Linked DNA regions of Homo sapiens: region 1 is linked to region 2. Evidence: fine-mapped expression QTL. A gene starts in region 2. The other region holds a variant in brackets. All regions are shown on one strand. Distances are between the middles of the regions.

Region 1 (8,320 bases), 20 kb before region 2:
TATGTGTACGAGTGCTTTTCTCTCTGGAGAATGAGCTGCTTACAACAAGGCCCATAGTTCTTACTCTCTACATCTTCAGTGCCTGGCACAGGGTAAGATAGTTGCCACCCACATTTTTCTACCTAAGTTTCCTTCTAGCAAAGGATACCATTCATAAACTCCTGGGATACCTAAGGGAATAGTCTCAAGCAGCAGAAATTTGTATGAATTTTGCACTCAGTAATAAATCTGTGTTTGCTTTAATAAAAAGTGTTTAAGAATTATTTTTCATAGCAGGAAAAAAATGAGAAACAATCTAACTCTACCAATAGGGGATTAAATACGTTGATCCAGCCGTTTGGTGGACTAGTATGCGGCTGGAAACGAAGCATGGGGAGGCTCTTTAGGAACTGAATTCAATTGATTTTCAAGGTTTTTGTGTGTTTGTTTGTTTTGGAGACAGAGTCTCACACTCTGTTGCCCAAGCTGGAGCGCAGTGGTGCGATCTCAGTTCATTGCAACCTCCACCTTCCAGATTGAAGCTATTCTCCCACCTCAGCCTCCTGAGTAGCTGGGATTACAGGCACCGACCACCACGCCCGACTAATTTTTGTGTTTTTTAGTAGAAACGGGGTTTCACCATGCTGGCCAGGGGGTCTCGAACTCCTGACCTCAGGTGATCAGCCCACCTTGGCCTCTCAAAGTGCTGGGATTACAGGCATGAGCCACTGCACCCAGCCCTTCAAGGTATAAGTAAAAAGGGCAAGTGCAAAATAGTGTGTATGCTATACCACTGCTTGTGTAAAAAGGCGGGGGGAGGATATATTTAGATATTGGTATTTGTATGAGTTATCTCTGGGAAAATAGAGGAAATGGATAGTATGTTTTCTCTGGGGATAAGACCTAGGCAGCTAGCAGAGATAGTTTTTACAGAATAAAGGGTCTACCTGCCTCAGCTATGCCTTTTTCCCACTGAGGAAAGACACAACCCAGGAAGAACGGAACAGCAGGTCTGGATGATATGGGAGTGTTTCCAGCCATAGTGAGGGGAAAGAGCTAAGACAAACCTATTTCCTGGAAAAGAAGCATAAAGCCAAAGGGCCTGAGGGCAGCCGCAGGTCTTTTTGAAGCGATGAGGTGTGCAGAGGCAGATCAGGGGGTATATGTGCAGGGGTTGTGGGAAGCAGGCCTAAAAGAGGGAAGAGGAAGGTCAGGTCAAGGATGAGGCCAGGTGCGGTGGCTCACGCCTGTAATCTCAGCACTTTGGGAGGCTGAGGTGAGTGGAAAACTTGATGCTAGGAGTTCGAGACCAGCCTGACCAACATGACAAAACCCCAACTCTACAAAAATTAGCCGGGTATGGTGGCACGCCTTTGTAGTCCCAGCTGCTTGGGAGGCTGAAGCAGGAAAATCGCTTGAACCTGGGAGGCAGAGGTTGCAGTGAGCTGAGACGCTCCAACCTGGGCGACAGAGTGAGACTCCTTCTCAAAAAAAAAAGGATGAGGATCCTTAGAGGGCGTTGAGCATTGGTCTTATAGCTGGGTTCTTAGCCACCACTGGGAGACGAGGGTGGGAGGGAGAGAAGGGAGCTCCGCCTGCCATATCTGGTCGCTTCTTCCAGGGCATGTCAGAGACCTTTGAGACATTACACAACCTGGTACACAAAGGGGTCAAGGTGGTGATGGACATCCCCTATGAGCTGTGGAACGAGACTTCTGCAGAGGTGGCTGACCTCAAGAAGCAGGTACAGGCCCTTCAGCCCTTGGAAGGGTTGCTGTGCCCAGTGAGGGGCTGGTGGGGATTGGGTCTGCTCTGAGGAAGTCCACCCAGGCCGGGGTGGCTTTGGTCAGGTCATTTCACCTCTCTGGCCTCAGTTTCCTTAGGTGAACCGCTGCCACTGCCTACCTTGCAGTGGGTTGCGAGGCTTAGCTGAGCTCCTCTAGGAGCGAGTCAGGTGCTGGGGCTTTGCCAATATGAGGTATTATGATTAACAGTGTGATGTGCTGGTGGAAGAGTTTGAGGAGGTGATCGAGGACTGGTACAGGAACCACCAGGAGGAAGACCTGACTGAATTCCTCTGCGCCAACCACGTGCTGAAGGGAAAAGACACCAGTGAGTTTGGGGAAGCAAGGGCAGGCTGGCTCTGGATGATTTGTTTGCTCTCCCTTGGGGGAGGTGGGTAGGAGGAGAAACAGAGGGCACCAGAGGGCATTGTAGGATCTCTGCCCTTGAAAGGCTTGATTGGCAAGACATGGTGAAGTAAGAGTCACTGAAACCAGGTGCAGAATGATGGGCAGACAAGTCAGATGCCCCCAGAGGGGCCTGGTGGCCACAGCGAGAGGCAGGAGGCAGGGAGGCTGATGTCAAGCACAGTCCCAGTTGCTACTCCCACGGCTCCCTGCTCAGTGCTCCTTGCCCAGCACCCCAGCCCTGAGGCACTTCTGTTGAGGGTCTCTCTCCTCCACACCCTAGGTTGCCTGGCAGAGCAGTGGTCCGGCAAGAAGGGAGACACAGCTGCCCTGGGAGGGAAGAAGTCCAAGAAGAAGAGCAGCAGGGCCAAGGCAGCAGGCGGCAGGAGTAGCAGCAGCAAACAAAGGAAGGAGCTGGGTGGCCTTGAGGGAGACCCCAGCCCCGAGGAGGATGAGGGCATCCAGAAGGCATCCCCTCTCACACACAGCCCCCCTGATGAGCTCTGAGCCCACCCAGCATCCTCTGTCCTGAGACCCCTGATTTTGAAGCTGAGGAGTCAGGGGCATGGCTCTGGCAGGCCGGGATGGCCCCGCAGCCTTCAGCCCCTCCTTGCCTTGGCTGTGCCCTCTTCTGCCAAGGAAAGACACAAGCCCCAGGAAGAACTCAGAGCCGTCATGGGTAGCCCACGCCGTCCTTTCCCCTCCCCAAGTGTTTCTCTCCTGACCCAGGGTTCAGGCAGGCCTTGTGGTTTCAGGACTGCAAGGACTCCAGTGTGAACTCAGGAGGGGCAGGTGTCAGAACTGGGCACCAGGACTGGAGCCCCCTCCGGAGACCAAACTCACCATCCCTCAGTCCTCCCCAACAGGGTACTAGGACTGCAGCCCCCTGTAGCTCCTCTCTGCTTACCCCTCCTGTGGACACCTTGCACTCTGCCTGGCCCTTCCCAGAGCCCAAAGAGTAAAAATGTTCTGGTTCTGATTTCTGAGTCCTCTGCAGCCCTCAGAGGTGCCCTGGAGCCTCTTGTTCTTTCCTGCCCCTCGCCTTCCAGCCCGTGGGGCTGAGGAGGGGAAGGCTAAAACCCACCCACTCTCGGGAGCAGCAAGTGCTGGGAAGGCCCAGGGTTGTCTTGGGGTGAGGGGAGGCATGGGCATAGGATGAGGCCCAGGGCAGTGCACTGACCTTACGCTGCTCCCTCGTGTCCTGGACACCTGGCTGCCGTTCCCTCCCTCCCTCTCTCCTGCTGCTCCTCTTCCCAAGGCCTCCCATTTGTTGTGTAAAATGCAGTGTTTACCTGGCCAGCTCC[C/T]GCCCCTGTTCCTACTTCCACCTGGCCTTGACTGTTGGTCCTGAACCTTGTTTTCTGATGACCACACTTGATCACTCTGAGGTTCCTAGCTGTTGTACCTGGAGTGCAGTTGGGAGGACACCCGGTTCCCAACACCATCTGGTCACACCATGTTCCTCAGGGCCAAGGGAGGAGCAGAGAGGCTGGCCTCTAGGGAGAAGGGGTGGGGAAGCTCAGGCACCTCCCAGTTTGTCCTGAAGGCAGGGATCGGGGCAATTGGTACAGTAGTGATGACAATTGTATGTATTCAAATTGTATGCTTTAACTTTTACTATTACCACACTCTTGTGAGGTGTGCTGTTAACCTCATTGTGTAGAGGAGAAAACAGGCTAGAGTCAAGTGATATGCTTGGAGTCAGGTGACCTTGGAGTCAAGGTCCTGCTGTTAAGGAGTGGTATAGCTGGGACGCAGACACTGGCGTTCAGATTACAAATCCATGGTACTTCCACTCTCCACAGCTGCCAGGGCCTCTTCCCCCAACCCCTGGCACTGACAGTGTGAGTTGTATCGAACTGGTTTAGTTTCTTGGCCTTAACCTGTCACCACCACCAAGATTCTTTTTGTTTTGTTTTGTTTTGTTTTGTTTTTTTGAGGCGGAATCTCACTCTGTTGCCCAGGCTGGAGTGCAGTGGTGTGATCTTGGCTCACTGCATCGTCTGCCTCCCGGGTTCAAGCAATTCTCTGCCTTAGCCTCCCGAGTAGCTGGGATTACAGGCACCTGCCACCACGCCCAGCTAATTTTTTTGTATTTGTAGTAGAGACGGGGTTTCACCATCTTGGCCAGGATAGTTTTGAACTCCTGACCTCATGATCCATCTGCCTCGGCTTCCCAAAGTGTTGGGATTACAGGTGGGAGCCACTGCGCCTGGCCTAACCACCACCAAGATTCCTAAAAGGCGAATAGGAAGCAGCTGTGGCTTATTGGAAGGAAAGAATGGCAGCAAGTCCTGGGGGAGCTGTGCCCGCACCAGATCTCCCGTGAGCACCCACACTGCAACTCTACCTCACACTTCCAGGCTAGGCCCAGTGGGTAGGAGGGATACACTGCTGAAGCCTCCCTGCGTCCATTGCAGCGGCTCTGGGGGCTGAACTGGGAGTGAGGGGCCCCCTCATAGCCTGGTCCCAGCCTCTCCCCCTCTACCAGGTTAGGGCAGCCAAGGCCATAGAGAGTGGAACAGAATGGAATCTGTCTCTCCTTAAGCTGTTGAGGATGACGCCAGGTCCTGGGAAAATGATACTGTCTTGGTCCAGCCTCCACCTCTGCATCTCCAGGACTGATGTTCCCCCTGTTAAAGGAGCTGGTGAGCAGTGAGATTACAGTCTAGATGCAGGTCTTGTCCTGGACTTTGTTCTGAGCATAGAAAATGGCTGGGGGTGAGGTGGAGGGGCTGGTACCCAGGGCAGGGATGTGTTTCCTGCCCCCTGAACTGTCTAGGATTTGGTGGCCACCCTCTGATTCCCCCATTCTATCACTAACAGCACTTCAAGGCCTGGCTTACTTCTGTCCCCACAGCTTCATTGATTTTTTTTTTGTTTTTTGTTTTGTTTTGAGTCTTTTTTTTTTTTTTTTTGAGACAGAGTCTCACTCTGTTGCCCAGGCTGGAGTGCAGTGTCACAATCTCAGCTCACTGCAACCTCCGCCTCCTGGGTTCAAGTGATTCTCTGCTTCAGCCTCCCAAGTAGCTGGGATTACAGGCAACCGCCACCACACCCAGCTAATTTTTGTATTTTCAGTAGAGACGGGGTTTCCCCATGTTGGCCAGGCTGTTCTCGAACTCCTGACCTCAAGTGATCCACCTGCCTTGGCCTCCCAAAGTGCTGGGATTACAGGCAGGAACTACCATGCCTAACCCTTTCCCCTACCTTTCTTTTTTGGAACAGGATCTCCCTTTGTCACCCAGGCTGGAGTGCAGTGGCGTGATCATGACTCACTGCAGGCCTCAACCTCTCAGGCTCAAGTGATCCTCCTGAATAGTTGGGACCATAGGTATGCACCACTGTACCTGGCTAATTTAAACATCTTATTTTTTGTATACCAGGTGTGGAGGCTCACACCTGTAATCCTAGCACTTTGGGAGACCAAGGCTGGAGGATCGCTTGAACCCAGGAGTTCGAGACTAGCCTAGGCAACATAGTGAGACCATGTGTCTAAAAAAAGAAAAAATTATTTAAATACTTTTTTATTTGTTTGCAAGAGTCTCACTCTGTCACCCAGGCTGGAGTGCACTGGCACAATCTTGTCTCACTGCAACCTCTTCCTCCTGGGTTCAAGTGATTATCCTGCTTCAGCCTCCCGAGTAGCTGGGATTACAGCCACACACAACCACGTCTGGCTAATTTTTGTATTTTTAATAGAGACGGGGTTTCACCATGATGGCCAGGCTGGTCTCGAACTCCTCACCTCAGATGATTCACCCACCTCGGCCTCTCAGAGTGCTAGGATTATAGGTATGAGCCACTGTACCCGGCCAATAATTTTTTTAATTTTTAATTTATTTTTTGGGCCTGGGGTGGTTTCAGCCTCTTATTTGGGAGGCTGAGGCAGGACAATTGCTTGAAACCAAGAGGCGGAGGTTGCAGTGAGCCGAGATTGCACCACTGCACTCCAGCCTGGGTGACAGAGTGAGACTCCATCCCCCGCAACCAAAAAAAAAAAAAAATTTGTAGCAACAGGGTCTCCACATGTTGGCCAGGCTGGTCTCAAACTCCTGGACTCAAGCAATCCTCCCATCTCGGCCTCCCAAAGTGCTGGGATTACACGTGTGAGCCACCATGCCTGGCCTCATTGATTTTTAAAGTAGGACAAGGTAAAGATCTAACCCCCAAGCCAGGTGTGGTGGCTCACGGCTGTAATCCCGGCACTTTGGGAGGCTGAGATGGGCGGTTCACCTGAGGTCAGCCTGGGCGACAGAGGGAGACTCCATCTCAAAAAAAAATAAAAAAAACTCCTTACTGAGGTGTTGGCCCAGTGGCCCAATCCCAGGCCCTGGCCCAGTCTTGAGGGCAGGCAGTGTTGTCACTGCTTTGCTCTTTGACCTGTGGTTACTGCTTCCCAAGGGCCAGGCTTGTTGCATACTCACTAGCTTTCACGCAGCCCACCCAGCAGCAGCTTACTCTGGCCCTGCCTAGAAAGGCAGAATGCAGGAAACCTGGCTTTCCGGGTTTTTTTCTTTCCCTTTTTTTTTTTTTTTGGTAGAGACGGGGTTTTGCTGTGTTGCCCAGGCTGGTCTCACACTTCTGGGCTCCAGCAATCCCCCCACCTCGGCCTCCCAAAGTTTTGGAATTACAGGTGTGTGGCTTAGCGCCCAGCCCAGGTTTTTCTTTTCTTCTCCCCACCACACAAGCCTTTCCGAACTTGGGCGTTGCCTCCCACTTTCCTATACCCCTTCCCATCCATGGCTTGTTTTTGTTTTGATTCAGAACAGGCAGAAATTAATCTACCTGATATACAGAAATTCATATAGATGAATTTCTACCTGTTCTGAATCAAAACACAAGCCATGTGCAGTGCATGCCTGTAGTCCCAGCTACTTGGGAGGTGGCTTGAGAGGATCACTTGAGCCCAGGAGTTCCAGTCCAGCCTGAGCAACACAGTGAGACCCTCATCTCTAAAAAGCGAATAAAAACAAAAAAAACACCAAAACAACCAGGATGTCTCCCATTTGCACTCCACTTAAGTGTGGAGACTTAGGCTGATCACATCACTGCACTCCAGCCTGAGTAACAGACTGAGACCCTGTCTCAAAAAACAAAATGAGACAAAAAACCTGCTCGTAATAAAGTGTGAAATTATAAAAAGAACCTCTGTTTTTAAAAGTTTTCTATTTATATAAATTTATAGGGCACAAGTATAATCAGGTAAGGGTACTGCCTGCACTCAAGTTAACCTGATTTCCGTCTTCCTGTCAGAAGCCTCATTAGAACAAGATTCTAAACTTAACTCACCTGGACATGAGAGTCACCTAGAATACTTGTTAAACATACAGATGTCTGGGTTTGCCTCAGACTTGCTGGGTTGAGACCTGGGAGTCTGCATGCTTAGCAAACATCTCTCACGGTCCTTAAGAGGAGGCAGCTAGAACTCACTTCACCAAGATAAACCCAGGGTGTTGTCCTAAGATGGGGCAGGACTTCAGTGAATTTACAGTGGGTCAATGTCTTGTCCTCAGAAACACAAACAGCAGAATGGCTCCATCTCTGTTGAAGACTTCCATCAACTAGAACCACGAGGGCTGATGGACAGACCACAAGGCCAGTTTGTTCCAGTTCAATGATTAAAAGAACCACAGATGACCAGGCACGGTGGCTCACGCCTGTAATCCCAGCACTTTGGGAGCCCGAGGTGGGTGGATCACGAGATCAGGAGTTTGAGACCAGCCTGGCCAATATGGTGAAACCCCGTCTCTACTAAAGATACAAAAAATTAGCCAGGCGTGGTGGCTCACGCCTGTAATCCCAGCTATTCAGGAGGCTGAGGCAGAAGAATGACTCGAACCCAGGAGGCAGAGGTTGCAGTGAGCCGAGATCATGCCATTGCACTCCAGCCTGGGCAACAGGCAAGACTCTGTCTGAAACCAAACAACAACAAAACATGCTCAGACAGTAAAATCTCACGAGTGCTACATCAGGGCTTCCATATTCATTTGAAAGGGCAGGTCCTAGGAGGCAGGCTCCTCTCCTTACTTTGAGACTGCTGGGTGGCATTTCCATAGATCTTTATGCAAGTTAGGAAAAGGTGCTCTTCACACCTTTAACTTCCATCTGTCAGAAAATTGTTTTGCCGGGTGTGGGGTCTCACACCTGTAATC
Region 2 (8,320 bases):
CCAGTAATGGCCCTCTGGAATTTGACTGCTCGGCGGGTTCTTTTCTTTTGAATTTCTTCCGACTGCCCCTTTTTGTGCTTCCTTCTGTAGAGGACAGTCCAGTTTATCTGCCGAGGATTCCTCTTGGAAAGGAACGCCAACTCGCATTTCGCATTAAGAAACTGGAAAACCTTCCCGTCGGTCCTGGCGTAGCGCCTCCCGTGTCCGGGGTAGATCTTGTACCCGCTAAAACTGCACAGCTCGACCTTCATGGCGACAGCTCCACAGAAAGACAAAAGATGGCGAAAAGTCTTTTTTAATTTTTTAAAAAATTTATTTATTTATTTTTTTGAGATGGAGTCTCGCTCTGTCACCCAGGCTGGAGTGCAGTGGCGCGATCTCGGCTCAGTGCAAGCTCTGCCTCCCGAGTTCACACCATTCTCCTGCCTCAGCCTCCTGAGTAGCTGGGATATCAGGCGCGTGCCACCACACCCAGATAAATTTTTTTTTTTGTATTCTTATTAGAGACGGGGTTTCACCGCGTTAGCCAGAATGGTCTCAATCTCCTGACCTCGTGATCTGCCCGCTTCGGCCTCCCAAAGTGTTGGGATTACAGGCGTGAGCCACTGTGCCCGGCCAATTTTTTTTTTGAAACGGAGTTTCATTCTTGTTGCCCAGGCTGGAGTGCAATGGTGTGATCTCGGTTCACCGCAACCTCCCCCTCGCAGGTTCAAGCGATTCTCCTGCCTCAGCCTCCTGATTTGCTAGGATTACAGGCAGGCGCCACCACGCCCAGCTAATTTTTTGCATTTTTAGTAGAGACGGGGTTTCTCCATGTTGGTCAGGCTGGTCTTGAACTCCCTACCTCAGGTGTTCTGCCTACCTCGACCTCCCAAAGTGCTGGGATTACAGGCATGAGCCACCGCACCCAGCCTCCAGGGAACAAGCATTTCTGGCAACTTGAACCCAGGAGGCGGAGGTTGCAGTGAGCCGAGATGGCACCACTCATTCCAGCCTGGGCGACAGAGGGAGACTCCATCTGAAAAAACAAAAACTAAACCATATGTAAAACAAACATTGTTTTGGTCCAGAAAGATGGGACAACTGGAGGTGAGGAGGCTTGGGGGCTTTCAGATCACAGGTGGGAGACAAAGGGTTGCGTTCTTTTGAGTTTCTGATTAGTCTCTCCAAAGGAAGCAATCAGATATGCATTTATCTCAATGGAGGCAGGCTCTCCCCAAGCTCTCAGCTTGAATTAACACTGACATTTTAAAATATCTAGCAAAGACAAACATAAAATTTAGACAAAACCTATGCTGACAAATCTGAAGGCCTTTTTATTTTTATTCCCCCAATAATTTTAAAGCTGGCTAGTTTAGTAAAGTTATACTTAAGTGGACTTGAAAATTGCTTAGACGTATTTACTTAATTACTTAAGCCCTCTTTTTTTTTTTTTTTTTTTTTTGAGACAGGAGTCTCGCTCTGTTGCCCAGGCTGGAGTGCAATGGCACGACCTCAGCTCACTGCAACCTCCACCTCCTGAGTTCAAGCAATTCTCCTGCCTCAGTCTCCCAAGTAGTTGGGATTACAGGTGCCCACCACCACGCCTGGCTAATTTTTGTATTTTTAGTAGAGACAGGGTTTCGCCATGTTGGTCAGGCTGGTCTCGAATTCCTGAGCTCATGATCCACCTCAGCCTCCCCAAGTATTGGGATTACAGGCGTGAGCCACTGCGCCTGGCGGAGCCCTCTTTTACTTATAAGTCAATTTGGTAGACACAACATATAGCAGTAAGTGTACATATAAGTAAATACATCTAGACATGTATATGCACACATAAACGATGACCTGGAACGTTAGCCATGAGATGGCAGTACAAGCTTGAAGGTTTTACTTTGCCCTAATGGATAATGCAGGGAAGGCTGTGAACCAAAATTTTGGGTAAAGCAGTCTCCATGGCAGTTTTATTTTTATTTATATTTATTTATTTTTTGAGACAGAGTTTCTCTCTTGTTGCCCAGGCTGGAGTGCAATAGCGCAATCTTGGCTCATCGCAACCTCCGCCTCCCAGATTCAAGCGATTCTCCTGCCTCAGCCTCCCAAGTAGCTGGGATTACAGGCATGCACCACCATGCCCGGCTAATTTTGTATTTTTAGTAGAGACGGGGCTTCTCCATGTTGGTCAGGCTAGTCTTGAACTCTCAACCTCAGTTGATCTGCCTGCCTCAGCCTCCCAAAGTGTTGGGATTATAGGTGTGAGCCACCGTGCCCGGCCAAAGTAGTTTGATTGATTGATTGATTTTTGTTTTGAGACGGAGTCTTGCTCTGTCGCCCAGGCTGGAGTGCAGTGGCGCAATCTTGGCTCACTGCAACCTCTGCCACCCGGGTTCAAGCGATTCTCCTGGCTTAGCCTCCCAAGTAGCTGGGATTACAGGCACGTGCCACCATGCCTGGCTAATTTTTGTATTTTTAGTAGAGACAGGGTTTTAGCATCTTGGCCAGGCTGATCTTGAACTCCTGACCACGTGATCCACCTGTCTTGGCTTCCTAAAGTGCTGGACAGTTTGATTTTTAAAGGCTAAACCTCCCCAGGCTCCAAGGAGCACTGGGGCCAAACAGTACCAAAGGAGAGCATCACCCGTTAACCAGGCCCCCTGCTTAGAAGAGTAGCACAGACCGGGCGCTGTGGCTCACACCTATAATCCCAGCACTTTGGGAGGCCGACGCCAGTGGATCACGAGGTCAGGAGTTTGAGACCAGCCTGACCAACATGGTGAAACCCTGCCTCTTCTAAAAATACAAAAATTAGCCGGGCGTGGTGGTGAGCGCCTGTAATACCAGCTACTCAGGAGGCTGAGGCAGGAGAATTGCTTGAATCTGGGAGGCGGAGATTGCAGTGAGCTGAGATTGCACCACGGCACTCCAGCCTGGCGACAGAGCGAGACTGTGTCTCAAAACAAAAACAAAAACAAAAAAAAACCCTGCAGTTGCTTCCATGTTTAGGCGCTGCCCACCAAGGGTCCCAAGTTGGAAAGGAAGGAGGAGAGAGGCAGAGAGAGAGAGAGAGAGAGAGAGAGAGAGAGAAGCGCGAGAGCGGCCCTGTAATTGAGCAGAAAGGAAAGGGAGAAAAATGAATCCCAAACTTTGGGCTTACCTCTTTCTGCTGGCTGGCTCGCCAAAATATGTTAACGGTAGAGGATGTCCAGGTTCTTGGCATCTTGAACAAACAATTGGACAAAATGCACAAACAAAGCAAGAAAGGAATGAAGGATTTTATTGAAAATGAAAGTACACTCCACAGTGTGGGAGCGAGCATGAGCATAGGGGCTCAAAGGCCCTGTTACATTTTGTGAGTTTAAATACCCTCTACTTGGGGTACACCCTATGTAAATGAAGAGGATGAAGTAAAGTTACAGTTACAAAGTTATTAATGGCGGGCATACGCCCTATGGAGAGGATATTTCCCGTTATAACTGAAGTGTGAATTGGCCTTATGTTCCCTGTCTCTAGACCCTATTCTCCTGCTTCCTGTGAAAGCAGAGGGTTTTGTTTGTTTTTTGCTTTTTGTTTTTTGAGACGGAGTCTTGCTCTGTTGCCCAGGCTGGAGTGCAGTGGTGCACTCGGCTCACTGCAACTTCCGCCTTCCCGGGTTCAAGCGATTCTCCTGGCTCAGCCTCCGGAGTAGCTAGGACTACAGGCGCGTGTCACCATGTCCCAGCTAATCTTTCTTTATTTTTAGTAGAGACGTGTTAGCCAGGTTTCACCGTGTTACCGTGTTACCGTATTCCAGCCGGGCTCCGCCCCTGGATTCGGTGGACAGACCAGCTTTACCTCCAGAGACTCCCCCTGTCTTCCCTGCACCGGCTGACTATACCTACACACTTCGGTGGCACAATCTTTGTTTAGATATGCTGATGCCTTCCTTCGCTGGGAACGGTCCAGTCCTGCCCGCCTGGCGCTCAGCTCTGCGGATCTCAGGGGATGGAGTGGCAATCTCATTGCTCCCGCCTCTCCTGACCCCTCTCGCCTTCTCCTCGAGACCCGGGTTAAGTGGGCAGAGGGCTCCGAGGGTCCTCTCCCGCCGTGGGATTGCACAGAGGGCTGGGTCCGCAGGCTGGCTAAAAGGACCTAGCCCAGGATTGCGAGGCAGCGCCCTCCCTGCAGCTGGACAGACTCGGGCGCCCGGCCCAAAGCCCGGCAGGGGCGTGTCCGCGCGCTCACCTGCTATTGGCCAGGTGGGGCTGTCGGCTGCCAGCAGTGCTTATGCTTTAAGTGCGGAGCGGGTGGCTGCGGAGCCAGGCGCGGCGCAGGATGGTGGACAGCGTGTACCGGACCCGCTCCCTGGGGGTGGCGGCCGAAGGGCTCCCGGACCAGTACGCGGACGGGGAGGCGGCGCGCGTGTGGCAGCTGTATATCGGAGACACCCGCAGCCGCACCGCCGAGTACAAGGCATGGCTGCTTGGGCTGCTGCGCCAGCACGGCTGCCAGCGGGTGCTCGACGTAGCCTGTGGCACTGGGTGAGCCCAGGCCGGGGCCGGGGGCGTTGCATGAGATCGGGGTCTGTCTCAGCCTGTACTGCGCGGCCGCAGAACCACAGGGCCGGGCACGTCAGGGCGGCCTTTGCCAATCCTGGAACGGGTGGGACACCAGGGCCAGGAGCAGGTACCTGCCCGGCAGAACAGGCACTGCGAGTGCCCCGTGAGGCTAGGGGTCCAGGTAGCGGTTCGCAGGGAGAGGCCCCGGAGAAGGGAGACTGAGTGTGAGTGAGGGTGTGGGCAGAAAAAGTGAGCGTCCCTGAGGCTTTGGAGCCAGAGCCACGGACAGATTGCAAATATTCCTCCTGTGATGGCCTTGGGCAGTGTTAACAGTTAACATTGCTCAACATTTGCACCTGCCAAGCCCAGTGCCAGGAGCTTTTGATACATCACTTTTTCAAACCCTCACAAAGCCCCATGAAGTTAAGCAGTGATATTCTCTCATTTACTACTGGGGAAGTAAGGCCTCAGCAAAGTAAAATTCCCTCATACATCATCCAGTGAAAAGGAGCTAACAGGCCCGGGTTGGTTAAGATCTGTCCTGTGCTCTATTTTTCTCTTTTTTTTTTTTTTTTTTTTTGAGATGAAGTCGTGCTCTGTCGCCCAGGCTGGAGTGCAGTGGCTCCATCTCGGCTCACTGCAAGCTCCGCCTCCTGAGTTCATGCCATTCTCCTGCCTCAGCCTCCCGAGTAGCTGGGACTACAGGCGCCTGCCACCACGCCCAGCTAATATTTTGTATTTTTAGTAGAGACGGGGTTTCGCCGTGTTAGCCAGGATGGTCTCGATCTCCTGACCTTGTGATCTGCCCACCTCGGCCTCCCAAAGTGCTGGGATTACAGGCATGAGCCACCGCGCCCGGCTTTGTCCTGTGCTCTAAACCACCATGTTCTACTGCCTTTTGTGCACACGTATTTTAACTTCAAGGAGCCTCAGCTTGTCTGTCTCTCAAATGGGAATGACACTATTTACCTCTCAGGATTGCCATGAGAATTAATGCATATTTGTAGAGTGCCTGGCTCTGAAGAGGTGCTTTTAAAAAAAAGTTGCCTTGTGGTGACAGGAAACAGATTTGTGAGGTCAGTGGAGAGGGCCTGGGGAGAGGAGGCAGAGGAACGGACTCTGAGAAGTAGAGACAAAAGTGTCCAGTGCAGGGTCTCCTCCTGGCCCTCCCAGGCTCCCCTAACTGCCTCTCTCTGCCTCTCCTCGCTGGCCGTACTCAGGGTGGACTCCATTATGCTGGTGGAAGAGGGCTTCAGTGTGACGAGTGTGGATGCCAGTGACAAGATGCTGAAGTATGCACTTAAGGAGCGCTGGAACCGGCGGCACGAGCCCGCCTTCGACAAGTGGGGTATGCAGGTCTAGCCAGGCTCCCCCAGCCCAGTCACCAGGAACACTGTTCATTCTGCCTGGGGCTCCTTTAAGTGGGGGCGGGGGTGGAGTGTTGTGTTTTCCTCGGGGAGACAGAAAAATTACTGTCATTTCTCTGAAAAGCAAGTCTTAAGCTCCAGAATGAGACACCGGGTGTGAAGAGCTGGTTTTAACTGTGTTTGTGGCATCTTGTCCCTCCCCTCAAAGAAAAACCCATAAGCACAGAGCCCTCCTTCCCAACCAGGGTTCCTTCTCCCTTGATCCCTCTTTTCTCCTCCCCCTAACTGAACGGGGAGCTTGTGTGTCTTAAGAAGAAACCCAGGCAGGACTGCACTTGGTGGAGGTGGCTGCTACTGGTACCATCGTGCCTCCCTGATTCCTCTTTCTCTTCCTGACCCCTAGTCATCGAAGAAGCCAACTGGATGACTCTGGACAAAGATGTGCCCCAGTCAGCAGAGGGTGGCTTTGATGCTGTCATCTGCCTTGGAAACAGTTTCGCTCACTTGCCAGACTGCAAAGGTAAGAGAGGGTGTGGCCTTGGGCATGGCCCCCGCCTTGAGGCCCCCTTCCACAGACATCTGGCACCTGCTCTCCTGCCAAAGCAGACTCTCTGCCTTGGCTCTGGCACCCCTGGGGAGGGGAGAGATGGGAGGGAGACTGGTGCTGGGGGCCCTGAGCAGATGGAGTCTTTCTGCCCGTGCCTGGAGCTCAGGGGACCAGAGTGAGCACCGGCTGGCGCTGAAAAACATTGCGAGCATGGTGCGGGCAGGGGGCCTACTGGTCATTGATCATCGCAACTACGACCACATCCTCAGTACAGGCTGTGCACCCCCAGGGAAGAACATCTACTATAAGGTGGGGCCCTCTGGGGTGGGGGTGGGGGTGGGGGTGGGGGTGGGGTGGAGGGAGGGTCCAGTGGCCCCAAGGTGGGTTACAGAGGCTAATGCCGGCTGCCCCACCACCTACAGAGTGACTTGACCAAGGACGTCACAACATCAGTGCTGATAGTGAACAACAAGGCCCACATGGTGACCCTGGACTATACGGTGCAGGTGCCGGGGGCTGGCCAGGATGGCTCTCCTGGCTTGAGGTACCACTTGGCTTAGTGGGGGTGAGGCGGTAGTTGGGGGAGCTGAGGTCACCAGTCCTCATGGTTGCTGGGGCCTCTGTTACAGTAAGTTCCGGCTCTCCTACTACCCACACTGTCTGGCATCCTTCACGGAGCTGCTCCAAGCAGCCTTCGGAGGTAAGTGCCAGCACAGCGTCCTGGGCGACTTCAAGCCTTACAAGCCAGGCCAAACCTACATTCCCTGCTACTTCATCCACGTGCTCAAGAGGACAGACTGAGTGTGGCCTCAGCTCCCACAAGCCTCTGCCCAGGCACTGCTAGGCTCTGTCTGGAAGATGGGGACCAGCAGCCCCACACCAGGGCCAGCCTCTAGAGCAGACTACAGCTGGGGTGCAGGGATGTGGGTTCCACAGACGGAAGGGTAAACAATATAGTCTTTTTCAGTTCCTGCATGCATTGTGTTTATTTATGTCAGAAGGATCAGGCTCCCATGCTGCCCACCCCCCCACCCTCTCCCAGGGCTTACTCCTCCCACAACCCTGCTCTTTCTCACTCCAACCTTTCATGCCACAACACCAGTAGGGGGCGGGACATGCTTTATTTTCAGCCACAGAACTAGCCCTCTCAGGGCCCAATCCCCAGAACCCAAGGCCCTGGCCCTCTTCCTGAGTAGATGGGCCTTTCTCTTAGAGCCGGCCTGGAAGGAGGGGCAAGTAGGCAGGAGATATCTCTTGAGCTGTTGCTGCTGTCTCAATGCCACTTTGCACCCTGGGATCTCCTGGAGGGAGGTGGCCTCCAGGTGGGTTGGCAGCAGCCTGAGGAGGAGCCCTTCCTTCCCAGATCTCTCTGTGGGCTATCAAGGTACCTGCAGCCATGCTGAGCGGGGTCCCAGACCCTGGGGGGCTCCTAGCAGGCAGCAAACTTGCGCTGGATGCGCTTGTACCGGAGCAGCTCCTGCTCACTGACTGAGGGTTGCAGCCGGGCGGCAGCCTGCAGCAAGTCCTCCATGGTGAGCATCAGTGCTGAGCTACCTGGCTCCAGCCCTGGAGATGACAAGGTGGGGAGGCTGTGGTCTATGCCCAGGCAGGGGAGAGCCCTGCGAAGGTGGCTTCCTGCTCAGGGTCTCCTAGATGTCAATGATCTTCCCTCTGGAATCCAGGACTAGGTTTGTCTCCCACTAGTTTTTTTTTTCCCTTAAACATTTTTTTTAGAGTTGGGGTCTCTCTGTGTTGCCCAGGCTGGCCTCAAACTCCTGGGCTCAAGCGATCCTCCCACCTCAGCCTCTCAAGTAGCTGGGACTCAGGTGCACCCAGCTCCCCACTAGCTTTTTGGTTGACCTCTCAGACCGGCAAGTGGCTCACCTTCCTCC

What was found.
Region 1: its variant is fine-mapped to the expression of GNMT in pancreas (GTEx, PIP 0.95).

Annotation. Positions count from the first base shown.
Region 1 is chr6:42,936,117-42,944,436 of GRCh38, forward strand. It overlaps CNPY3 (canopy FGF signaling regulator 3), which reads left to right. Exons shown (of 6, transcript NM_006586.5): 4 at 1,601-1,723; 5 at 1,974-2,091; 6 at 2,452-3,178. The coding sequence ends at 2,675. All of the region lies in intron 1 of CNPY3-GNMT (CNPY3-GNMT readthrough), which reads left to right. It overlaps LINC02976 (long intergenic non-protein coding RNA 2976), which reads left to right and starts at 4,377. Exons shown (of 5, transcript NR_186646.1): 1 at 4,377-4,490; 2 at 4,657-4,813; 3 at 5,394-5,499; 4 at 7,682-7,854. RefSeq lists an enhancer at 2,488-2,990. The variant C/T (reference allele first, on the strand shown) is at 3,473.
Region 2 is chr6:42,956,478-42,964,797 of GRCh38, forward strand. GNMT (glycine N-methyltransferase) reads left to right here and starts at 4,277. Exons shown (of 6, transcript NM_018960.6): 1 at 4,277-4,496; 2 at 5,735-5,862; 3 at 6,285-6,401; 4 at 6,595-6,737; 5 at 6,851-6,972; 6 at 7,058-7,403. The coding sequence starts at 4,291. The coding sequence ends at 7,229. CNPY3-GNMT (CNPY3-GNMT readthrough) reads left to right here. Exons shown (of 5, transcript NR_134892.2): 2 at 5,735-5,862; 3 at 6,285-6,401; 4 at 6,851-6,972; 5 at 7,058-7,403. It overlaps PEX6 (peroxisomal biogenesis factor 6), which reads right to left. Exons shown (of 17, transcript NM_000287.4): 16 at 8,313-8,320; 17 at 7,388-7,994. The coding sequence ends at 7,858. It also overlaps the pseudogene RPL24P4. RefSeq lists enhancers at 3,996-4,497, 4,676-4,725.